Linked DNA regions of Homo sapiens. The protein of the gene in region 3 purifies or fractionates together with the protein of the main gene of each other region. This does not show direct contact. Each region holds a gene or a part of one and is shown on either strand. Other genes may lie near its edges. The genes, in order: UTP4, LIMD1, GOLGA4 and SMYD2.

Region 1 (7,033 bases), on a different chromosome or scaffold from region 3:
CTGACTTAGCAGAGCCCTGAAACTAAGTCCCAGGTCGGCAGAGAGGAAAGCCAAGAAGCCACCTGATTTATACTATGGAATCCTTGGACTCAGGAATTGGGGACCCCAGATATTCTAGAAAAGGAGTAAGTGGGGCTTCAAAGAGGGATCCGTTAACAGCTGGTAGACCCCTCAGATAGCCATGCCCTGACTAAGAAGGTGGGAAGCTCCCAAAATGCACGTCAGCAGAATACTGGAGACGTTGTCTGAGGAGGGCTATCAGGCAGAAGCAGTATATGAAAACCAGGATTAAGTGAACATTTCTCACTGAATGTTGAGAACACCATTCTTTTTTTTCCCCTTAGAATGCTGATAGCCAGGCCAATACTCACCAGGCAGGAGAATGAAAAACCATTTCTGAGGAACATAACTGACACAAAAGAAAAGATCTGAAGATTCTGGCTTCAGGGCTACCCCAAATAAGCAGTCCAGCCAGATCATTCTTCAGTGAAACCCAAGCTCAGTAAGCCACATGATGCAGTGATGAGATGATCACCAGACATGAGGAAAGCCTTTAACATGAAAGGCAGAGGCCAAACGGACTAACAGAAACAAATAAATGAATAACAGGGAAGAAACAGGCAGAGTGAAAAACACTTGACAATTATTAATAGCCTTAGAGAAGAGTTTCGGGGTGAGGGGAGGGGGGAGGGATAGCATTAGGAGATATACCTAACGCTAAATGACGAGTTAATGGGTGCAGCACACCAGCATGGCACATGTATACATATGTAACTAACCTGCACATTGTGCACATGTACCCTAAAACTTAAAGTATAATAATAATAAAATAAAATAAAATAAAAAAAGAAAGAGAAGAGTTTCTGTATAATGAAACATAAAGAGAATGCTGTAAAAAAGAAGATTCACGAAAAAAAAGAACTCTGGAAATGTCAAAAATGAAAAACTCAATAGAGGATTCAAAGATAAAAAAGACAAACTCTCCCAGAAAGCATAGTAAAAAGACAAAGAAATGAAAAATAAGAGTAAAAGAATTTCCCCCCAGAACTGAAGGACGTGGGTATTGGATTAGAAGAACCTACCAGGTGTCCAGAACAATTAATTGATCCACATACCAAGAAACCTAATTATTACATTTCATAACAGTAAGGATAAAACATCCTAAAAGCTCCTGGGGGAAAAAAAAATAAAACAGGTCCTACACAAAGGGATAACTCTCAGAATGGCAGCTTACTTGCTAATAATACGAGGAGCTGGAAGACAGCGGAGCCAGGGCTTCAGAATTCTAAGGGAAAAGAATTTCCAACCTAGAATTCTTTCTCATGCACTCTTACTCAGGATCCACCAAAGGGTAAACCAAGAAAGTGAATAACACAGAAATGGGAGATCCTATCCGATAGAGAAGCAAAGGAGATCCCGAGAACAATGGAAAAATCAATCAGAGTTTCAGATCTCACAGCTGTGCAGCAGGCCCAGAGTGGCTAAGCCAGATGGGAGTGGGTCAGAAGGCACCGGGAGGGACTTATTCACAAAGATAAAAGTGGAGAAAGAAAATCAGATGGACTTGAACCTAATTTATGCAACTGGAAAAATGTGGGAATGTATCAGTAAGACAGAGAGACAGAGACACTATTAAACAATAAGTATACCGGAAAAGAAAGAAAATTTACTATGTGAGTAGTATATACATAGTCATAATAATGAAAACATCAATTACTAATTTGAACAAAGTTATAATATAACCATACTGGGAGGATCGGGAGGAAGTGTGGATGCCTGTGGCAGACGGTAGAAAAAGAGGGGCAAGTTGCAGAAGTCAGTAAAAAATGGTCTAAAGCTGAAAAATCAAAATGTAGCATAAAAAGCATGCTAGGATCTGCAGTGATAGATACCAAAAGAATCAGCTAAGGGTCACAAGTGGTTGCCTCGAGGAGAGTGAGAGAGATATAGAAGGACTCCCTCTTTTTTGTAATAAGCTTAAGGGATTTTTTTTTTTTGAGACGCAGTTTCACTCTTGTTGTCAGGCTGGAGTGCAATGGGGCGATTCTCCTGCCTCAGCTTCCTGAGTTGATGGGAATACAGGCATGCACCACCACCCCGGCTAATTTTGTATTTTTAGTAGAGACAGGGTTTCTCCATGTTGGTCAGGCTGGTCTTGAACTCCCGACCTCAGGTGATCCACCCACCTCGGCCTCCCAAAGTGCTGGGATTACAGGCATGAGCCACCGCGCCCAGCCAACCTGTTTTATCTCTGCATCTCAGACGGAAATACAGACATGTCCACCTAACAAGTTGAGATCAACCCTATCAATGAAGGATTCTATGAAGCCAATTTTCCAGGCCAAGAACAGAAAATATCATGGTTCTCTGCTTTTCTGATCTCATGTTTCACCAATTATGCTACAAAAATCTTATGTTCCTCAATGACAGAAGCCCATTTTTACCAAGGACTGGGATCTATAAATAGGTAATTCTACTGTTTATAGTACACGAATGTACTAGTTCAGAGTATTTTATTGTGAATTCTTATTACGATGAATGAAAAATACTATATCTTACTGAAGATCCAAGATTCCCCTAAAAGCAGTGGTAGTAATCCAAGAAAGGAGTAAAATTAATTGTGGACATCTCAGAAGATTAATGACATGTTAGGCCATAAAGGTCATGAAACCATGACAAAGGCTCAAGCTTTTGAAAACTCAGAAATGTGAATCTGACAAAACCCACACCCCAAATGAACTGAAAAAAACAATCACCTGATTTGACATCAAACACACTAATGTAGTCTATGGAACCAGCTGCAATGTGGGTACCAGAGGGATGCCAGCTGAGACTCAGGATGCGACCTTGGGAGTTGGACAACAAAAAAAGAAAGTGACATACACATAAATATACGAAGAGTAACTGAGCTCTCTTCCCACAACTATCTCTAGAGTGTTCTACAATCTTAGCTCTCTCATCTATAGTACTCCTTGAAGCACCATTTTATTTATTTATTTATTTATTTATTTATTTATTTATTTATTTATTTTTGAGACGGAGTCTCCTCTGTCGCCCAGGCTGGAGTGCCGCAGTGGGATCTCGGCTCACTGCAACCTCCGCCTCCCAGGTTCAAGTGATTCTCCTGCCTCAGCCTCCCTAGTAGCTGAGATTACAGGCACCTGCCACCATGTCTGGCTAATTTTTGTATTTTTAGTGGAGATGGGGTTTCACCATGTTGGCCACGCTGGTTTCGAACTCCTGACCTCAAGTGATCCACCCGCCTCAGCCTCCCAAAGTACTGGGATTACAGGTGTAAGCCATCGTGCCCAGCTGAGACACCTATTTTCTATTTCATACTTGACAAAATGTATGAGATTTTTAAAAAGCATTGTATTACCTTTGTAATTGAGAAAGAACACCCAGGCCGGGTGCAGTTGCTCATGTCTGTAATCCCACCACTTCAGGAGGCCGAGGTGGGTGGATCACGAGGTCAGGAGGTCAAGACCAGCCTGGCCAACATGGTGAAACCCCGTCTCTACTAAAAACACAAAAACTAGCCGGGCATGGTGGCACGCACCTGTAGTCCCAGCTACTAGGGAGGCTGAGGCAGGAGAATTGCTTGAACCCAGGAGGCAGAGGTTACATTGAGCCAAAATCACGCCACAGCACTTCAGCCTGGGCGACAAAGCAAGACTCCATCTCAGGAAAAAAAAAAAAAAAAAAAAAAAAAGAGCACCCAAGATATATTAAAAACGAAGCAAGAATCTGATTAGCAGAGGATAAGTATTACTAATGGACACAGAGGACATTTGCTATTCTAGAAGATGGGTCACCAAACTGTGGCCCACAGGCCAAATCAGGCCCACTGCTTGTTTTTGTAAATAAAGTTTTTACTGGAGCACAGCCTGCCCATTAGTTTCAGTATCGTCTATGGCTGCTTTTGCACTACACTGACAGAGTTGGCAGACAATGTAGGTTTGGCAAAGCCTAAAATGTTTACTATCTGGTCCTTTACAGAAACAGTCTGCCAACCCCTGTTCTAAAGGGTCAATGCCAATTCAGCCCAGGTGGAGCCCAAGGATGGGCAACTGTTTATAAACTCCCTCATTCAACTTGAATGCACCAGAAGGATTAAGAACCACAGTTCCTTGGCCAGGGCAAGTGGCTCAGGCCTGTAATCCCAGCACTTGAGGCCAAGGCAGGTGGATCACTTGAGTAAGACCAAGAGTTCGAGACCAGCCTGGCCAACATGGTGAAATCCTGTCTCTACTAAAAATACGAAAATTAGCAGGGCACGATGGCACGTGCCTGGAATCCCAGTCACTTGGGAGGCTGAGGCACCAGAATCACTTGAAGCCGGGAGGCGGAGATTACAGTGAGCCGAGATCATGCCACCGCCACTGCCAGCATGGATGACAGAGTGACACTCTGCCTCCAGAAAAAAAAAAAAAAAGAAAGAAAAGAACCATAGTTCCTAATGACAAAATTGTAGTTCAAGACTTCATGTACGCTTGTTAAAACATCACAAAAGTAAGTGATAACTAACAAATTGACTTCCACAGAAACACTAGCTTTCCAATTTTGGATTTCTGGTTTTCTATATTATTACTTAACCAAGCAGTCACAACTATGCTATACAATGGGTAAAGCCTGGGCTGGGGATGGCTTCTAGCACATACCCTCCCTGTACCCAGTAGAGATAAAATATTACCTGGATTCATGGGAAAATATCCCATCCCCAGTGGCACAGAAACTTAATTTCTTGTTAAGGCTATTTACCGCCCCATGAAAAATGACGCTTACTTTTCTGCCGATCAAAATTTCTTTCAAACTGGATTTTGTCTGGGGTAATTTGAAATAGTTTCACAGATCCATCTTCACAACCAACCTATTTGAGAAAGAGGTAGTAAACAGAAAAAATCAATAGTAAACATTTTATAGGACTAAACACACACACACACCCCCCAACACACACTCTCTCTATTCTCTCTTCCTCCTTAAAGCTATCAGTTGCCGTGAAAAAGAAAAATCATTTGTGAGAGAAAGTACTAGTTATCAAGAAACTAATAGTGTATTCTCAGTAGCCTTCATATCCTAGACAGAAAACAGACTGATATTAAGAGTTCTAATTAGTGGCCCCATTCCTCTGTATGACATGGATTAGAAGTAGGATTTCATAGAATACTTCTGCTAGAGACCCTTGGCCTAAATAAAAGACCTACTAACATTATAACCTAAATGGAAACACCTTCAGATATCGTGCAAATTAGTGCAGATCAAAAATAATCAGACTCATCACAGAATTAAAGATCTGGAAGCACCCACTCTAATGGTAATTATGGGAAGGGGCTCAGTGTGTGGTCATATTTTTGAGAAACACTGGGCTGAAACACAAGTGCACAGGTTAACTTGCTGAAGGGACTCTCAGAACTCTTCATGTACCGATGTGCATTGTGAATTTACAGCAGGATTAAATATGCTGTATTTGTGAAATGAAATTTACCATAAAACACAAAACAAACCAAAACAAAAAAACCTCTACATCTCCAAATTCCACAGAACACAGTTTGGGAAATGTTGAACTGATGTAATCCTCTCATTTCATAAATGAATCAACAAGGTCCAGACTAGTAGCAAAAAGAATGCTGGGGATTTTTAAAATCTTCACTATCAATTCCAATCTTATAGTTGGGGTTGCCACATGCCATAATATATCGTTACTCTCCTATGAGCACAGGGAAGAAAGTCTGAGCAGGCACGAGAGAAATTTTGGTTTGAATTACCAATAGTTGCTTACTAACCAAAAGTTGAGAGCCACTGGGGCTGGCAGCCATGCTCCAAATAGGTCCTCCAAAGGCATCCATAGCATACTTGATGTTTAACGCCTGTAAATCATACTCCATAATCTCGCCATTGAGCCCAGCACTAAAGAGTCGCTGTCCTTCTGCCCAGCACAAAGCTTCTGTAGCCCGAGACTCATGACCTGGGAAAAACTGCAGAAACACCATAACTTCTCAACATTACCACAAATTCATCAGGTACCGGTACTGAGTGGTCACAGGCAACATGGTAAAAACAACTTCCCCATAAATAACTAGTGTGGGGTTTTGTGCTATCAGATCATGCCTAATGACATTTTCATTTTTTCAGCTCAAATTCTAATTACTTTTATACAGTTAAATTTGTTTCTTTTACTAGGACTAGTTCGGCAAAACATTTTCAGCAGAAAAGGTTTGAACTGCATTCCAGCCTGGACGACAGAGTGAGACACTGTCTCTACAAAAAATATAAAAAGTAGCCGGGTGTGGTGGCACACACTTATAGTCCCAGCTACTACGGAGGCTGACGGGGGAGGATTGTTTGAGCCTGGGAGGCGGAGGCTGCAGTGAGCCTTGGCCTCCCAAAGTCCTGGGATTATAGGCGTGAGCCACTGCACCCAACCCAAAAGTTTTCGTAGCTATCAAGGCATTTTATGCTTAGACCTGCTTGACGAAAAAGGAACTAAGTAGGTATAATTTTTCCTATTTCAACTTGAAAAGGCCAAGATATACATGGGTTAAGTAGGTTGCCAAAAGTGCCAAAGTCAATTGCATGAGGCAAATGAAGGTCTCCTTACTCCTAGCTCATATGCTCATATTCTTTCACTTTTTTGTTTTTTGGAGACAGAGTTTCGCTCTTATTGCCCAGGCTGCAGTGCAATGGCGCCATCTCAGCTCACTGCAACCTCCGACTCCCGGGTTCAAGCGATTCCCCTGCCTTAGCATCCTGAGTAGCTGGGATTACAGGCATGTGCCACCACGTCCCGCTATTTTTTTTTGTATTTTTAGTAGAGACGGGGTTTCTCCATGTTGGTCAGGCTGGTCTCGAATTCCCGACCTCAGGTGATCTGCCCACCTTGGCCTCCCAAACTGCTGGGATTACAGCCATGAGTGAGCCACCGCATCAGGCCCACTTTTATTTATTTATTTTTTTTGACACAGGGTCTCATTTTGTCACCCAGACTGGAGTGCAGTGGCACGATCTTGGCTCAATGTAGCCTCAACCTCCTGAG
Region 2 (7,033 bases), 8.3 Mb from region 3:
CCCTTCCCCAAATCGCACACCTGCCTGACAATGTGGCCCGCAGATAGGACCTGAAACCCATGCTCTCCACGACCCTCCTAGCTCTGCAGCTTCAGGGAGAGCAGCTCCAACAGTTGCAGGACTTGATAGTTCTGAATATGCAGAAGAAAGACCTTTATACCTTGAGCATTTCCATCTTCTCCTACCTCCCCCAAGAACCAGCCTTCATTCCATTTCCTACAGAAGCTCTAGAGGGCTGACCCTTGCCAGAATCTTGTTGACTGCCTCTTGCCCCAGTCAACGCAGGATGCTTTTCTCTTGGATGTCTACAATGGGCTTTGGGGGCTGGGTGGGGAGGGGTCTACCTCGCAGTGGTAACACTCCACGTGGTAGTCTCTGTCCATGGACACGACACGGATGGTCTCATCTGAGCCCTGGGACCAGAGAAAAGCAAGAACACATAGGAGAGGCCTGTTAGGGGGGCTGTCGGGCTTGATGTACCGTGGGGTGGGGAGGGAAGAGGGTTTTGGGGGTAACAAGTAGGTGGCCTTGGGAGGAGAAGGTAAATCAGGAGTACTTACTGGAAGAAGAATACATTTAAGCTGATGAGAGGGGAAGTAGGAGGGATAGGAGTCCTTCCTTCTAGAATGTCAGAGTTAACACTGAAAGAAAGACCTACATGGACACTTATTTTAAAAAATGAAGAAAAGACAAGCCTTTCTCCTCATCTGCTAATCTAAGAATTAGTATCAAGTAAGGGAGTTTGACCTGGTTATGGGGACAAATCAGCACAAGAAGGGTACTGGGTTGGGGAAGCCAGTCAACAAGGAAGGGTGAAGACACGACTTATCTCAAAGGTGAAGTGGGGTTTTTTTTGGTTTTTTTTTTTTGGAGACAAGGTCTTGCTGTCACCTGCTGGAATGCAGTAGCACCATCATAGCTCGCTGCAGCCTCAAACTCTTGGGCTCAAGCAGCTAGGACTACAGGCACATGCCACCACACTTGGCCAATTTTTAACAATTTTTTGTAGAGATGAGGTCTTGCTATGTTGCCCAGGCTGTTCTTAAACTCCAGGCCTCAAGCAATTTTCCTGCCTGGGCCTCCTAAAAGGGGTGGGATTACAGGCGTGAGCCACTGCACCAGGCCAGAGTTGAGATTTTTAAAAGGATACCTTAAAAGCTGTAAGGACAGGACATGGATCTTGTAAATGAGCCCAGGGAGATATTCATGTCTTAGAAGCCCCTGGGAGCATGTCTGGAAGGGCATCTTACCTCAGGTGGAAGGATGGGAAGCCCACAGGCTGCACACTTGGGGGCCAGCACCCTGTGGGGAGAAACAAAGCAGCAATAAATGTTGCTTCTGGGAGCAAATTCCAGAGTCAGACTTGCACTTGGAATCCACATGGAGCCTTCCTCCATGCCGCCTCCTGCCCCTTGCTCTCCTCCCTCATAGAATGACTGGTACCTGGCTCACTTTGTGGAATATGCCTTAGTATTTGCTCCCCAGCTGCAATGAGGACACTGGCTGCCTCTCACTCTTCTGGGGACAGCACTAACTGATTTGTTTACACCTCTCATGGTGCCTAGCACAGGCCCAGGCAAACCAAGAGTGGTAGGAACCAGCACTGCATAGGGGCCTTGTGAAGTTAGGTAACGCTGAAGCCACAGGGCTTGGTGGATTCCTCCCGAGGCCTAGCTACAAATATGATTATTAGTTTTTCTGTGCTCTGTTGTTTTTTTTTTTTCACTAAACATGATTCTTTAACCCATTCCTGTCAACACTGGCATCGACCAACCTCCCAAGGTCCCTGCTGTACCCCTCAAAACCATTAAGCCTTTGCTGGACTGTGATCTAAGGGCGGCTGGCAAACACAGTTTTGTCGGTTTCCACCACTCACTCTGCTGAGATCAGCTTGGCCTACACGAATGGGTCCTGTCTGCTCCCATCCCTTCTTACTTGTGGTAATCTCGGACACAGTAGATCTTGTTCTCTGAGTCCACGGTGAAGGGCACCCCATCCAAACACTCATTACAGATGACACAGCGGAAACAGCCGGGGTGGTAGGACTTCCCCAGGGCTTGCAGGATCTGGAGCAGAGACCAAGACTCAGTGGGGATTATAGGGAAGGATGAGATGGTGGAAGGGGAGAGGAACACATCAGGCCTAAGGATTACATGAGCAGTCACACACAGAGTACACTTACCCCCGAGTTTCACCTAGGAGAAGAGCAAGAGGTGATGGGGTGGGAAAGGCAAATCTGTTTAGATGAATACACAGAAGAGACCACACAGGAATCCTTCTCCTGCAGCCTCTCACAGGGTCTCTGAGCTGGCAGGGAAAGAGGGCTCCTTTCCAACCCTCACCCAGAACAGGAAACTCTTGCATAGTTCTTTAAGAGAAAGAGATGGTAAGGAAGGGATGGGCCAATCCCAGGGCCAAAATCCACCACGAAGAAGTGGGAAACGATGCAAAGCAGGGCCACAGAAGGATACATCCTTCCCAGATTTGGGAAGCAGCAAGTACTCGGAAAAATGAAAAGAAATTCCATGTGGAAATGGCAGAGCTCAAAAGGAACCCCTTCACTTCTGCCTCTTGGATGCCCCTTCTATGCAGCTTTGACTCTGGAGCATGATAATCTAGAAGTTCTGACTCAACCCAATGACCTCAAATCCAAGTGTAATAAGTAAAGTTTCTCTGTTGTTGTTTTTAAACGCAATAGAGGGAAAGCCCCACAAACTTCTTCCTCTCAGTGTCATTTAATCTGGATCTGGATGGGATACCTGGAACTGCCAGAGCCAACCTGAAACCAGGACAGACCCAAGACATGGACAGCAGGAAAGAGAAGAGATGGAAAGAACATCCTTGGTGAGGTCCGTAAGTAACTGAATTAACTCATCATGGAACCACATACCTCCAAGCCTCTTTTTAGGTGAGATAAAATATCATTCCTATGAAGTCAGTGGTCCTCGAAATGTGTGTGGCCCCAGACCTTCAGCATTAGCATCACCTGCAAACTTGTTAATAATGCACATTCTTGGACCCCATCCCAGATTTCTTGAATCAGAAACTCTGGGGGTAAGGCCCAGCAGTTGGTATTTTAATAGGGTGATTCTGATATATATTAAAGTTGGAGGATCATTGGTTTAACTCGAACTGAGTCTGGGTTTTTTCTATAATTTGCAGTTGAAAGCATCTTCACTGACTTAATAGGAGATTCATTTCTGCAATTACCTGCATCATGAAACTTAGCAAAAACAACTGAACTACAGAATCAACATGAGCAAGGTCACACCAAAACATGCATCTGCAAAGAATGTACAGAACGGTCATCAGCATCCAGCAGTGGGAGCCCACACAGAAAGCCTTCAAACAGGCTGAAGAAAGGGGATTTTGGATTTGGGGAAGCCTTGTCAGTACACTGTGAGACCCAGGGGTAAAGATATGCTGTGTTACAGCTCCTTCCCCTGGAAGCCTCAGGCGGATAACTCCACACTGCACAAGCTCCAGCCAAGAAGGCAAGAGGAGGGCGTTGTGCTATTCCAGCTTTCCTCTGAATGCTCAGCTTTCAAGCTTCCTCATTCCCTCTTGGGTTTCCCTAACCTTTGAGGGCCCTCTCAATCTGCAGTAAGGCAAAACAGGAAGAACAACTGGCTGGGCTTCCAAAACCCATTTGGCAATTTGGACCTTGGAATGCATTTTCCCCAAGATGAATGCTGTCTTGGCAGAAAGAGATCCTTAAATTAATTTAATCCACATTGTGCCTAAAGTAAGATTAGAAAAAGATGCCATTTTGCTGCATTGTGACTAGCTGTAATACTTTTTTTATGTGAGACTATGCCTGGTTCTAACCTGCAAGCCCAGAATGTACCCCTCTATTAACAAAAGGGTATATAGAGAGACAATTTACACAAAGAGTTAGACAGCTGGGGTTCTGTCTAGACATTCACTAAAAGTTTTCAAGTCCTAGGGAAGACCTGAAAGACTGAAGCTTCAACTTCATACTATCCCATATGGTAGAGATCTCACATCAAGAGATGGGGACTATTTCCCCCTCCCCTTGAATCAGAACTGGCTTTGTGACTTTCTTTAATTAACAGAAAGCAGAAGAAACAATGTTCTGAGATTTCTGAGTCAAAGGCTTAAGAAGACTGGTAGCTTCCACTTCCTATCTCTTGCTGTAAGGAAGTCTGAACTAGACTACTGAATGATTAGAGGCTACAGGGAGAGGGGCCTGGAGGGTGAGAGGTCATCTTGGATGTTCCAGTTCAACTGTGCTACCAGCTGAACAAAGTTAAGTAGGAGACCCCAGCCAATGCCACACAGAGCAGAAGAATTGGCCTGCTAAACCCTGACCTAAATCCTGACCCACAGCATGAAGCATGATGATAAATAAGAAATCACTATTGTTTTAAACTACAAAGTTTTAGGGTGGTTTGTCATGCAGCAATAGATAAATGACATACCCTGAGGTTATCCAAAGAAGTCTTAGGATTACTAGAACTAAGAATAGGGTATAATCATACTCATAAATTCAGAGCATGTTGACTTCATATGAAGTAGGTTTGTCAGAAGGACACTAAAAACAAAGGCAAATTCTGCTAAAGAAATAGAGCCCTACAGAGTCTAGAAGATACCTGGGAAGGAGAGGTAAGCATATGTAGCTTCTGCCTACCTCCCACTGCGAGCATGGGGGAAGGGCCACGTTTCCCAGGGAGGTCTTGGCTACTAATGAGGACATGGCTCTAATAGGGCTAAGACCTCTGCTGAGGTCTGTCAAAGCCTGGGAGATAGCAGATATTCATCACGAATGGGGAGGGCTGTGGGTCACTGATGTTTTATAAATATTAGCATATAACCAGCAGAAATGAGTGTTTATGTCCATCAAAGACATGTTCAAGAGTATTCACAGCAGCTTCATGCATAAATAGCAAAAAACTAGAAACCACCAAATCCCCATCAACATGAGATGGAGAAATAAATTGTGCTATATCCATACAATGGAATTCCACTTAGCAATACAAATCAATAAACTACCAATACAGGTAACAGCATGGATGAAGCTCAAAAACATATGTAATAAGACCTGAAAGAGTCTATACTATATGTTTCTATTTATATGAAGTTCCAAAACCAGCAAAATGAATTTCTGGCAATAGAAGTTGGAATAATGGTTGCCTTTGTGGGAGTGGGGTCTTGAGTGGGAATAGACAAGAAGGAACTTTCTGGAGTTTGGGAAGTGTTCTATATCTTGATCTGGGTGGTGGTTACAGGGGTATATGCACATGTGAAAACTCGTTCAGATGTACACTTAAGATTAGTATCTTTTACTCTATGAGTTATTTCTCAATAAAAAGGTAAAATTAAAAATACTAATAATTAGAAATTATCTTCTCTAGAATGAAATTAATGAGTCAGCTTAGAGAGGGACTTAACTGTTTCCAACTTAAAGTATGTTATATAATCATTTCCTCTGATCAGTATATTAAAGAACTTCTTAAAGGCTGGTTTCCAATGGTGAACAATTTGATGTTGTATTCATTAACCTCATAACCTAACCCTCTAGGGAAAAATTGTCCCCACTGAAGACCTGAAGCCCAAAATAACCTCAGAGAGCCAGTGACTGAGCAAAGAATGGAATGTATAAAACCTGGTCCTTGCTCTGCTGTCTCAGAACTAAATGACAGGCCCTAAAAACTCATCTTCGTAATGGTGTGAGCTGGGCATAACACAGGGAGAAAAACAACTTTGCTCCTCTGGCTTTCTGCATTTGACTCCAAGGTAGCTGAGATTTCTGCAGTAAAAACAGACTGTATTTAGCATCTCACCTGGGATGCCACAAGGATCACAGAGAAGCCAGAGGGAGGCCAGTGCGATTCAAACAGCCCAGAGGAGGAGAAAGCATTATCGGAAACATGATAGCGTGTGCTCTAGATGGTTAAAGATGTTAATTCCAATAAAAGCCAACAATGTGGGTTCTATTAGAACAAGCAAGCTGTACTTTACAGGGACTTTTTTTTTTTTTTTGAGGTGGAGTCTCACTCTGTTGCCCAGGCTGGAGTGCAGTGGCGTGATCTTGGCTCACTGCAAACTCCGCCTCCAGGGTTCAAACAATTCTCCTGCCTTGGCCTCTCAAGTAGCTGGGACTACAGGCATGCACCACCACGCCCGGAAAATTTTTGTATTTTTAGTAGAGACAAGGTTTCACCATATTGGCCAGGCTGGTTGGTCTCAAACTCCTGACCTCGTGATCCGCCCGCCTCGGCCTCCCAAAGTGCTGGGATTACAGGCATGAGCCACTGCGCCCAGCTGTAACCACAAATCAAGATAAGAAACACTGTCCTCAATTATTAATTTCTTTTTTCTCTGAACACCTCCTCCTCCACCTGAGATGCTGTTCTCTTCTTTGGCTGACCTACTCACCATGTCCATGATCAGATGTCCACAAAGAAAACACCTGTCAGCCGACTGCTGGAAACCAGAGTACTGCAGAAGAAAAAGAAAAGAAAGTTAAACCCAGACTGGTAAGATGAATCAGCCACTTCCCCAACAGCCAAGAGGATTATAAGGAATTTCTCAGAAAGATGTGTCACTCTGTGCAGAATTCTGTCATCCCCAAGTACAACACAGCTGTGGGCTGAGTCATAGAATATTCTCTGCCACGAAAGCCATCACAAATACTAGTACCACTCACTCTAACAATGACTGTGTCTGGGCACCCACAGCATGCCAGGCTCTATGTAAGGGACTGTATATAGAGATGCTTTAATCCCATCTCAGTGGTTCTCAAAGAGCAGTTCCCTGGCATCACTTGAAAGCTTGTAAAAAATGCAAATCCTTGGGCTCCACTCCAGACCTACTGATTTGGAAACTCAGGGGGTGGGTTCTGGCAATCTGTGTTTTCACAAGCCTTTCAGGGGATTCTGAAACCATCACTCTAATGCTTACAACAATTCTGCAAGGTCTACATTATTACCCAGAATCCTCAAATAGAAGCAGAGGGCAGCTCAGAGAGGTTAAGTGAACTTTTCAAGGTCACACAGCCAACAAAGGGTAA
Region 3 (7,033 bases):
ATCACTGCTCTACCACTATGTAGTTTTAGGGAAATTACTTAACTACACTGAACTGGCTTTTCCTTCTGAAAAACAAAAACAGAAAAAAAAAAAGTAGAACTAAACTAGCTTTACTGTATCTTCCAACACTCTCTAGGCATTCAAGAAATAATACTTTTTTTTTTTCATTTAGCACATATATCCTCTATGGAAGTATAAGAAAATGTGAAATTATTTAAATCTTTTCATAATGACATATAAAGCTCAAGAATTATAAAAGGTGGCATTTATAGGCATGTGTTATATCTTGGAATTCTAGCCATTTCAATTACATTTAAAATAATTATTAGAATCTGTTCCCGACTCAGACTTCTGCTGACATAGTCAGCTGAGGTATGATTCTTTGATTTATGAATTCTTAATCACCAAAAGATTCTTAGCATATAGTGAAATAAGGCTTAGAGCAACTACAGAATCTGTAACCCAACCAAGAACAATTTATATTGTATTACATTTGAAAACATTTTCAAATGTTAGTCCAAAGTACTAACTAGCATTTATGATTTATCTTCATGGTGTATCTTCATGGCTTATCTTATTTTGCTAATGGCAATGCATTAGTGGCATATTCTGTGAATTGCAACATGGCATTAGTAGAGTAAGTATTTTGAAATAACCTTCCACTAAATATAAAAGATTTGGCTTATGCATTCCATTTTTTCCCAGCTTTCTTCTCTTGAGACCAATCAACCTCCACACACTGGGTAGAGATAAGAGTAAAGTTGATTGTCCCTCCCAGAAAGATTCCAGCTAAGTTAAGCAGCCACATTTAAATACACACTCACTATCCCATTACTTAGACTTCACCGAAGCACAGGGTCTTGATTCTTAGTCTGGTTCCCCTCACAGTTCAGTCAGAATCTGTGAGGCAGATGGGAAAGAATCTATTCTTCCTTTTAGTATCTACTGTTGCTTCAATACTAGCAAGGGGACTGTGCTGCCTAGTTAGCAGAATCTCATCAGGAAACTACAATCCTGGCAGAAATCAACTCAACTTTATAAATCTGCATATAACAGTACTAATTTGAATAATATTGAGTCAAAAAAAAAAACCCTTTTCGTTCAAAAAACACATTTGAAAAGGAAATCTTTGGCACTACCATGAAATCTATTACAGCTAAATTTCAAAAGTGAGAGAGAAGAAATAAGGTACAAACATCAAGGATTTCTTCATATCTTTTGGCTGTTCGTTTTAGATCATCATCTTTCTCAGCAATTTTTTTAAGTAACTGATTTGTCTCTTCTTGATGGCTTTCTAAAAGTTCAGCCTCCACCTCCTGGGCCTTATCTAATAAATAAAAATGAACACACACAAGAAAACACATTAGTCAAGAGTTAATATTTGTATCTCAATTTCAGTAACAACTCTCATTCCAATTAATTTTGATGAAATTTAATTTTATATAAGCATTTTAAGATGTTTAATGAGACATCTAGCTCAACAGTGATCAAATGTATCCTCTCCCTGAGCAAAAGTGTCTTTACAAGGTAATTAATTAGCTAATACTTTCAGATTGTTTTACCTGCTCCCTCTCTCCTTAAGGTAAGTCATTGCCAAGCAGGGCAGGTTCCCATTAGAGAATGTTATTGGGCAAGGATTATTTCTTCCCCAGTTTAATGACTTAATGCACTTACCACCACTGCAAAAATGATAAGCTTAAATTATAGCCTCTGCTGATATAATTGTTCCTTATGGAACTTAATTTTACTTACTGATAGTTTCTTTTATGGTCATTTCCAGCTCTTGTTCCTTTTGTGCCAGCTGTGTATTAAACTCCCTCATCAGCTGTTTTAATGTGGAATTGTGCTTCAGTTCAAGATCTTCCTGCTCCTGTCTGAGTAATAAAAATGTACCGTTAACTGCTGCCACACAAAGAACAAGCTGCAAGGAGCTACCTGGTCTTTAAAACAGTGCATACAGTATGAGTTCATTGTATGAAAACATTTTTGAGAGAGAGAGAGAGAGAGAGTGTGAGAGTGAGTGTGTGTGTGTGTGTGTGTGTGTGTGTGTGTGTGTCCAGGTACATATCAACTATGATTACCTCTAAGTAGTGGTCCTGGGGACCAGAGAATTTTTGTTTTCCACTTTAATTTTTTTTTCAAAACACATCTATGTTATATAATAATAATGCTAATACTAAAAACAACAAAACAAAAAGAAAATAATTACTTGGATATGTCCCTAATAACCAGAATCTTATATGCAAGAAAAGGTTTTTCTCTCCTAAATGGACATGGAATAACACTGCCACTTGCCCTAAATTGTTTTTATTTCTCCTCATATTTAACATATTGGATTTATGTTTAATATTTTGGGTTGGTGAAACTTATCCAAATAATTTAAAATAACTGTATTAGGCACAAAAAAAGGAGACTTAATTAAGAAGGACTGCCATAAAAATATTCAAGCTGAAATAAAACTTACTTGATTTTCTCTTCCCTTTCTTGATCATATTCTTTCTTTAGTATTTCCAATTCTTGCTGATGCTCCTTTCTCAACATTCGAAGGTCTTTCTGCAATCTAACAATCTCCTTGCCCAGTTTCTGTTTCTCCCGTTCTGCCCCGGCTAATTTAAACTCCAGATCATTGTGCTGGGCTTCCATGTTACTAAGCAATTTGGGTTGGACCAAATGTGATTTGGACTTTTCTTCAGTGTTTTCTTCCAAAAGTTCTGTGGGTTTATTTCTTCCATCCATCTGTTGTAAAGCCTGTAATTTTTCATATTTTGAGGTCAACTCTTCCATTTCAACTCTATGTACTTCTTTCTGTCTTACTAAGCAGGAATCCAGCTCTTTTATCTTTTGCTCCAAAATCTGACAGGTTAGTTCCTTCTCCTGGAGGGTTTTCTGGACGTCGTCAAACACATTTTCCAAGTTTTGCTTTGCCTGTATGTTATTTTTACCTCCTTCTTTTTCCACATGCTGGGCTACTATCAAGGAATATTTCTTGTTTTTTTCTTCAAGCTCCTCTTGAAGATGACCTATCATACTTTGATCTTCATGTTGCTTTGCCTCAGCATGTTCTAGCTTTATTAAGCGCTCCTGGTATTGGCATCGCATTTCAAAATGAGAAGAAACTGTCTCTTCTTTTTCCTGCCCTACCCTCTGCAATAGCTTTTCTTTTTCAGTTAAGTTTCTTTGTAAAACACTGATTTTTTCTTCATATGTCTTCTGCACACAGCCTTGGGAATCTGCTTCTTCTTGTTCAGTATATGCTGCCACATTTTTTGCTGATCTGGGTACAATTAATGTTTCTGACTGTGAACTTTCCACTGACTTAAGTTTTTCTTCCAAGATGTGAACTTCCCTTTCTCTTTCCTGCAATTTTGTATTTAGCTCACTCAAATGGCTTTCTGTACCTTTTTTATACTGTTCTTCTTTCTCTTCCATTTGAGATAACAACTGCTTCTTAATGGCAGCAATTTTTTGTTCAGCTTTTCTCTTCAACTCTGCTAATTTTGCAGCACTTTCTGACTCAAGCCTATCTTCCAATGCCTTTAACTCCTCCTCTTTGCTTTTCACACTTAAATTCACATGTTCTAATTCTTTCTTCTTAGTTTCAAGTTCAGCTTTCATGGAATAAACTTGGTTTTCAAGTGTTAAGATTTTTTCTTCAGCTTCTTTAACCCTGTTGTCCTTTTCTTCTCCTAACTCTTGAAAATGTTGAAGTTTCTGAACCAATTCTTTGTGTTCAATATCCTTTTGTTGATTGTAATTTTTAAGAACTTCATTTAAGGACTCTATTTCAATAGTTTTCTGGGTAATATGGTCCTCTAATTCCATAATTCTTGCTGTTTGAGACTTTAACTCTGTTTCTAAATTAGACTCCTTTTTCTCCATCTTGCTCTTGTCGTCTTCCATTTCACCCTTTAAACAATCAAATCTTTTATTTTGCTGATCAAGCTCTTCCTTCAATAAATTTATCTGCTCATCCTTTTCATAAGCTTCCTTTGATTTTAACTCAAGCTGGATCTGCAATTCTTTAACAGTGTTTTGATGCTGTGTAAATCTTGACTGTGCTTTCTTCTTCCATTCTGAGAATTTATTGGACCAGTCATCTACCTGCTCAAGAGCAGAAATTTTCTCTTTACTCAGAGTGTCAACTTTAAAAGATAAATCTTGCACCTGATCCAGCAATTCACATTTTTCTTCATCATACTGCTTTCTTAGTGATGAAATGGCTGCTTCTTTTTCGGATAGGCTGATGCTATTTTGAAGCTGAACATTCAAATCAGTTAGTTGTTTACTAAGACTGCTAATCTCAACTTTTTTTTCTTTAAGCTCTTCTTTCATCAATGTGACAGCATTGATGTTTTCAGATAACTCTTTCTTCAACTGTGTTATACAAGACTCCTTTTCAGAAGCAGCCTGTTGCTGATTGCCTCCTTCCTTCTGTAAGGCTTCTTTTTCTGTTACAAGACTTTCAATATCAGCCTTCATGCTCTTAATTTGATTTTCTTTTTCTTCTAACTGATGAGTAGCCTGTTGAAAAGAAATATTTAGTGTATTTTGCTCCTCTGTCAACTGTCTAAGTTGTGCTTCTAATTCAGAAACTGTGCAAGTTTTAATTAACAGTGCCTCCTTAACTTTAGTTGTACGGTGCTGACAATGAGAAATCCTAGAAAGAATGGCATTAGTTTTACTACTACTAATGTTGATTAGCTCATTTGTTTTAGCTTCTAATAAGGCTTCGGTTTTCTTACAGCAAATATCTAGCTGAATCGCTAGTTCCTCAGACAGTTTTTTAAATTCCAAGCTCTTGTCCTCTAGGCTTTTGTTACTTTTTTCATGTGAAGATTTCAAACTCTGGAATTCTTCATCTGTGGTTTTCAACTTGCTAGTCAACTCAGAAACCTTCCGCTTATCTTCTTCTGCCAGCATCTTCAGTTCAACTAGCTGCTCTTGAAGAAAAGTATTTTCCTTCAGAGACTTATTCAAGTCAACCTCTAGCTTTTCAAGATGAGCTTTCAGTTTAGTTTCATCTTGTGCAAGAGAATTCACATGGGCAGACTTCTGCTTTAACTGTTCCTGTAATTCATTTAATGTTGTATCCTGCTTAACACCTTCTTCCTTCAGCCATGTTATTTCCTTGTTCATCTCTTCTTTTTCACACCCAAATAGGAGGATCTTTTGTTTCAGTTCTGCTACCTCTTGTTCTTTTTCCTGTAATTGGATTTCATGTATTTCCTGAAGTTCTTCAGCTTGCTGATTAAGTTTCTTTTCCCAGATTGATATGACATCATTGAGTTCTCGTCGATGAACCTCAGTAAGACTTTCTATTTGTTCTTTTTGGTTTGTTTCCAGTCTTGACACTGCATCACTGATTCCAGCTGAGTTAGCCTGTGCCATTTCCAGCATTTTGGCATTAAACTGTTTTTCTTTCTGACTAAGCTCTAGAGCAGTATTTTCAAGCTCTTTCTTAAGTTTGGCTTCCTGATCCAGTAATTTTTTCTTTAACGTTTCTTGCATCTCCTTTGCTTTCTGCTTAACTTTTTCCATCTTTTTTTCTTGGTTTTTAAATTTGGTTTCATATTCCTCATTCAAAATATGAATACTGTCCTCCTTGGCTGACAATTTCTGTGTGAGTATCTCAATTTCTTTCTTCTGTCCTTCTCTCATTTGTAAAATCATATTTTCCTTTTCCACCAAGATTTGCTTTGTCTGTTCCTGTTCTTTGTTACCATCTTCAAGTTTGGACTCATAGACTTGGGTTAAAGATTTTACTTTTTGCTCCATTTCACTATTTTGTTTTTCAAGTTGCTGCATTAAGTCCTGCACCTGGATTTTGTGAGCATCTAACTCAGTACAAACATCTTTCTTTTGTGCTTCAACTTCAGCAACCTGTTTGGTAAGAAGAATTCTTTCTGTTTCCAAATCCAACAACTTCTGCTGCAATTGGGCCAACTGTTCCTCATATGCTTTTGTCTGCTCATGTGTGGCACTCTGGTAAGACTGAAAAACGTCCAGCTTAGCAGATGCCTGCTGGAGTTCCCCTTCAGACCTTTTAATATCTGCCTCTAAATTTTCTACATGAGCCTGATGCTCTTTCAAATGCTTGTCCCTTTCCTTCAAGAGAAGCTCAAGTTGATTAATTTGATCTTTTAATGCCTTCTCAGTCCTCTGGATAGATACCTCGTGTTCTTTAATGATACTGTCAACTTGCTGCTGGTGATGATTTTTCTGTTCATCCATCTTGGCCTCTAATTCCTGCTTCATTTTATCTGTTTGATCTTTCAGAACAGAAAGTTCCTCTTCTAGTTTGTGACGGGCTTTTAATACTTCTGACAGTTCAGAAGATAATGATTCTAGTTCTGTTTGCTTCACATCAAGCTTTTCTAAAGTCTTTTCATTCATTTCTTCTATGTGGGCCTGGAAGATAATCTCTTTGTCTTTCAACAATGTTTCTTTTTCTTGTTCACACTTTTCCCTAAGTTTTTCCATTTCAGTCTGATATTGTTGCTTTAAGACTTGGAGTTTTTCAGTCCAAAGGGCATCCTGCTGATGCTTAAGGCTTTCCAATTCTGTCTTGTGTTTTTCAACCATGACTGTAATCTCCTTATTGTGCTTATTTTTTTCAGCTTCCAGATGAACAGCCAAATCTTTTGACTGATTTTTGTTTTCTTGTAAGCTTTTTTCCAAAGAACTTTCCAATTCAAGAATTCTCTGTTAATTAAAAACAGATGCATTTTTATTAAAGTACGTACTTGTCTACTAACAATGATACACAGACATGATGTCTACCACCTACCTGAAGATCAAAATTATCATACCAAACACTAGAAAAGACAAAGAATCTATGCTCAATTACTAAAGGAATCATATAACAAAGAAAAGATTATGGCAAGGCACAGTCCAACAGTTTGGGAGGCCGAGGTGAGCAGATCACTTGAAGCCGGGAGTTTGAGACCCAGCCTGACCAACATGGCAAAGCCCTGTCTCTACCAAAACATACAAAAATTAGCCGGGCATGGTAGCATGCGGCTGTAGTCCCAGC
Region 4 (4,506 bases), on a different chromosome or scaffold from region 3:
GCCAGCTCTTAAAATCTGCTCTTGGAAACAGAATTTGTTAAATTGGGGATAAACTCAAACCTTCCTTTTCTCCTAGAGTGTGTGAGGAAGTGCACTGGCCTCATGCGCAGTTCTCTGTGTGAGATCTGTAGGGAGAGAGGAGCAGACAGACAGCATCCCAGCCCTGTGGTTCTCCCAGCAGGGCCTTGCTCTGCTAGACCCATCTTTATCTGCGTGAGCCCCTCCCGGAAGCCCAGCTCTGGTCTTCTGTGGGGCCGTGGGTCCCAGGGCTGCCTCCTACCCAGGAATACAGCTAGAACATGTCTTTTTGGACTGACTTTCAGGAGACACAGGGTGGAACAGCCTAGCCTTTAAATAAACACCTCTTACACACATGTAAACACACACACTGGCTCACCCACCAGCTGCCTCTGGGCCCTGTTCTTAGGGAAATGGCTGTTTCCCAGGCAGACCCCATCAGTCAGTCTTCAGGTACAGCCGGAGAGAACACTTGCTGTATCTAAAGCCCCTGCTGGACAATGGGGAAAGAACATCCAGAAGACACAGGAAGTGTTCTGACTTCAGAGCACTTAACTGTTTTGCTAAACCAACCCATATCATAGTGTGACAGAAAGCTGGGGTCTTAAGACACATTGGGGTGGGTGGGGGTTGGGTGGGTGGCTGTATGTCTGAGTACCTAAGGTGATAGGCCTAATTGCTGCCTTCATAAATGGGACATTTACTTCACAAGCTGTTTTCCCAGGGTCTTCCTCTGGGTATGTCTGAAATATAAAAATCTGGACTGGGATTGAAGATTGTGTTTACAAATGCTTTTGAATAGGATTTCTCCTGCAGTTGTTACGTAGCTTTTCAGAAACACACAAACTACAAATAATGAACAACATCTGCAATGATTCGGCAGGGTGGCAGCATCCACGCTCTCCACCCAAACCCTGGTGGGATTTGGAGAGGCCGCTGGTGGGCAGAGGTTGGCCCTAAGCATGGCAGCCTCCGGCTTACTGCACCCAGCCTGTGGGGCGGCTCAGTAGCCGCTGACATGGTGGCCTGTTGTCTCTTCTCTTGTTCTAGTAAGCACTATCCTTTGTACTCCCTCAACGTGGCCTCCATGTGGTTGAAGCTAGGGAGACTCTACATGGGCCTGGAACACAAAGCCGCAGGGGAGAAAGCCCTGAAGAAGGTATGTCTGTAACTCGGCCTTAGGATTCCCAGTGGCCAGATGGCCTCCTTAGCGCACCTCCTTCATGCCTCACCAGGCTGAATGGCTGAAGCAGTGGAGGGTGAGCAGCTCTCACCCACCCTCTTGCCGTGGGAGCAGCGGGGGTGGGTCCTGCAGGTGAGGGGGGAGTGAGAGAGTGCACCTCTGCTGTGTTTGTGTCCAGGCCTCCCTCAAAGGGAATGGGTGCCCACATCCAGAGGGCTGGCCGTGATCACAGGCCCAGCCTGTGCCTGGAGGAATTCTCCATTTGTTTGACCTTTGGGATTTTCAGAATGATGATCCCCAGTTGTGAAATCAAGGAGGTAGGATATGGAGAGTTAGGGTTAGGATGTTAGAATTGCGCATTTGCTGTTTCTAAAATGCACTTAATCATCCTCTCAGTTCATTGAGGACCAGTTACATACCAAGACCCTCGTGTGCTTTTCCTTTGAATTCTCACAAAACCGAGAGGCTTTCCTGATGAAGAAAGTGAGGTTCAAGCAGGTTTAAGTGAGTAATAGCCTAGGGTACATGGTGGGGCCTTCATTCAAATGAGGGTCTAAATTGAAAGCTTCGGCTCCTCCCACTCAAGCTGTGATGAAACTGGTGGGGAGCCAGAACCCTGGGCAGCATTCGCCTTTGGTTTGATGGCGGCCCTGTGCTGCCCAGGAGCCAGGCCCCGACCCTCACATCATGGGAGGTCAGAGTCATCATCCTGAGTATTGATTCTCATTGTTTGTGATGTGGAATTCACAGTCAATACAGTGTAATTTAGGGGATAGTCCATTTACTCCTGTAAGAAACTTTATAAAATGCTGGGGCCATGGACAGGGCCTGCAGGCCTAATCTTTCACCTTCTCCAAAGTTTCCCAATAGACTATTTGCGAAGATGGAATAAGGCCCACATCCCAAATAGAAGGGTCAGGGCACAGCCAGGCTGGAAGGGAGCACAGAACAAAATTTTCTGTTTTAAACCATGGAATTTGTCTTCTGAGAATTAGCCATTTGGGTCACAACTGCAAAGTGTGTCAGGTGATTAAGTAATAGATCAATGAAAGCTGGAGCAGATCTGAGCAAGGAACATGAGTCTTGAAATGAATGCCTGGGCAGAGTCGGCACCTGGAACAGGTGATTTCCGAAGGCTTGCACTGTTACTTGGCCTGCCTCCTCTTGGCTTGAGATCTAGGAGGAGAATATATAATAGATAGGAATGCCTGTCATAGTCACAGGCCATTAAAAATTCTCTGGGGGAATACTTTTTTCTCTGAGTAATTTGGCTGAATACAAAAGAGCAAATACATTCTTAGAGATGACATTTGATATAAACTTCCTGTATGCCAGGCGCTGTTCGAAACACTGTATCTGAATTAACAACCCTGAGAGGTAGGTATTATTCCAGTTTTACAGTTCAGGAAAATGAGGCACAGAGTGGTTAAGTAAATTACCCAAGGCCACACAGCTAGGAAATGATTAAACCACTGGAAACTTGACCATGTTACATTGCCTCACTATAAAGAAACCTTAAGTACATTCTCTAGCATCCCTCAATGAAACCTGCTACCTTTCTTTTAAGTTTTTAGAATATGTATTAAAAGGAAAGAGTATGCTTTTCGAAAGGGAAAAATAGTTTAGCTACGTCTTGCAGGTTAGTAATGTCAACTAAAAATCAAAATAGCTTTGATATAAAATTCACTATGGACTTTACCAGCATCACCTATTTTCTGGGTTGAACATAATCAAAAAAATTAGTCCTTAAAGCATGTTTTACTGAAAGATCTAGAATCTTGGGGCAAGAGAATGTCATGAAATCAGTTTCATGACATCGTTTCTCCAGCTGGATATTTTTGCAGAATGTTTTACCTAGCAGTAGACACTGGATGAGTTAGCTACCAGATGGTCTTCTCCTTTTTTAAAAAAAAACCAAGGCCAGGCACGGTGGCTCATGCCTGTAATCCCAGCACTTTGAGAGGCCAAGGCGGGCGGATCACGAGGTCAGGAGATCGAGACCATCCTGGCTAACACAGTGAAACCCCGTGTCTACTAAAAATACAAAAAATTAGCCAGGCATGGTGGTGGGCGCCTGTGGTCCCAGCTACTCGGGAAGCTGAGGCAGGAGAATGGCGTGAACCCGGGATGCGGAGCTTGCAGTGAGCGGAGATCGCACCACTGCACTCCAGCCTGGGCGACAGAGCGAGACTCCGTCTCAAAATAAATAAATAAATTAAAATAAAAACAGGTCCTGGTGGAGAACATAGGCTCTAATGGCCAGTTTGCATCCTGTGCCTTAAAGCAGAGAGATCCAACTTAAAGTTACCCTGGGTGGAGGTGTGAGGAGATTGGCTTCTAGGCTCTCATTGTTTGTCTTGCTTTTTCCTAGGCCATTGCAATCATGGAAGTAGCTCACGGCAAAGATCATCCATATATTTCTGAGATCAAACAGGAAATTGAAAGCCACTGAAACTATGCAGCATTTCAGTTTTCATTTAAACACTTAGTTCAGAAACCTTAAAGGATTTGAATATTTCAAATTGCACACGTCACTCCAGCATCTCTGTAAAATAATTGGAATGAAAATACTTCTTGCACTTAAACACTGCACATGCCGTACTTTGAGGTTAGTCTGAATCTTGAACTTTAATACCAAATTAATTTTGAATGCTTTTGTTTCCTAAGAGATAATGGCATGGTTTCATATGTTATACTTTGGACAGACAGAGTTTTAAAAATGGAATTATTTTTTCTTTCATGCCTCTTGTAATGTTCTGAACAAACTTGAATGATGAAAGTATTAAAGAGATATCAGTATTTGAGGTTTGTATTTTCTTCTGTCTCTGGGGAGGATTTCTCAGTGGTGGTGGGAGCCCAGTCTTGGAGTGAAAGTGACACCTGCTGTCCATAATTCAGCAAGCTCAAGTCTTCTCCATGGGACTGGGGTCGGGCAGCCTCTTTATTCTGCAGTTGCTCTTGTGGGGCTGTGCCTGTGGAGGAAGAAAATGGGAAGAAAGAGAAAAAGGTACACGAAGGAAAGAAAACTATCATCTATCTGTGGTGGAGGAACAGTCCAGTGACCCAAGTGCCCTCCAGCAGGCGAGGTTTTGAATCTGTTCTCTGGTGCCTGGTATTCCTTCAGTGTGTAAAGGTGCTTAGTGCGTGCTTTGCTTTCTTGGCTTTTCTGTCCCCATCTGTCTGAAAGCAGACTTGCCATCTCTCATTCTGTTGATTGTTCTGTGCAGTACTCTCCTTTTTGGAAAAACTCCAGGGTATGCTTGGGAAGGAAAAAAATGTTTTTCCTTACCAACCAACGCTGTGTT

Evidence for each region.
Region 1: the proteins of GOLGA4 (region 3) and UTP4 purify together in Homo sapiens (affinity purification with mass spectrometry; 3 studies listed by BioGRID and IntAct, with this or other methods). This does not show direct contact.
Region 2: the proteins of GOLGA4 (region 3) and LIMD1 purify together in Homo sapiens (affinity purification with mass spectrometry; 3 studies listed by BioGRID and IntAct, with this or other methods). This does not show direct contact.
Region 4: the proteins of GOLGA4 (region 3) and SMYD2 purify together in Homo sapiens (affinity purification with mass spectrometry; 3 studies listed by BioGRID and IntAct, with this or other methods). This does not show direct contact.

Annotation. Positions count from the first base shown.
Region 1 is NC_000016.10:69,135,638-69,142,670, reverse strand, and holds part of UTP4 (U3 small nucleolar RNA-associated protein 4 homolog), read right to left. Parts: intron 5,976-7,033; coding exon 5,784-5,975; intron 4,871-5,783; coding exon 4,786-4,870; intron 2,847-4,785; coding exon 2,757-2,846; intron 529-2,756; exon of another isoform or gene 481-528; coding exon of another isoform or gene 372-480; intron 1-371. UniProt on the Homo sapiens protein: Ribosome biogenesis factor. Involved in nucleolar processing of pre-18S ribosomal RNA. Part of the small subunit (SSU) processome, first precursor of the small eukaryotic ribosomal subunit.
Region 2 is NC_000003.12:45,667,723-45,674,755, reverse strand, and holds part of LIMD1 (LIM domain-containing protein 1), read right to left. Parts: intron 6,463-7,033; coding exon 6,400-6,462; intron 2,067-6,399; coding exon 1,936-2,066; intron 1,303-1,935; coding exon 1,251-1,302; intron 414-1,250; coding exon 345-413; intron 1-344. UniProt on the Homo sapiens protein: Adapter or scaffold protein which participates in the assembly of numerous protein complexes and is involved in several cellular processes such as cell fate determination, cytoskeletal organization, repression of gene transcription, cell-cell adhesion, cell differentiation, proliferation and migration.
Region 3 is NC_000003.12:37,323,257-37,330,289, reverse strand, and holds part of GOLGA4 (golgin subfamily A member 4), read right to left. Parts: intron 6,703-7,033; coding exon 2,465-6,702; intron 1,875-2,464; coding exon 1,753-1,874; intron 1,328-1,752; coding exon 1,197-1,327; intron 1-1,196. UniProt on the Homo sapiens protein: Involved in vesicular trafficking at the Golgi apparatus level. May play a role in delivery of transport vesicles containing GPI-linked proteins from the trans-Golgi network through its interaction with MACF1. Involved in endosome-to-Golgi trafficking.
Region 4 is NC_000001.11:214,333,132-214,337,637, forward strand, and holds the end of SMYD2 (N-lysine methyltransferase SMYD2), read left to right. Parts: intron 1-1,068; coding exon 1,069-1,177; intron 1,178-3,572; coding exon 3,573-3,653; 3' UTR 3,654-4,000; downstream 4,001-4,506. UniProt on the Homo sapiens protein: Protein-lysine N-methyltransferase that methylates both histones and non-histone proteins, including p53/TP53 and RB1. Specifically trimethylates histone H3 'Lys-4' (H3K4me3) in vivo. The activity requires interaction with HSP90alpha.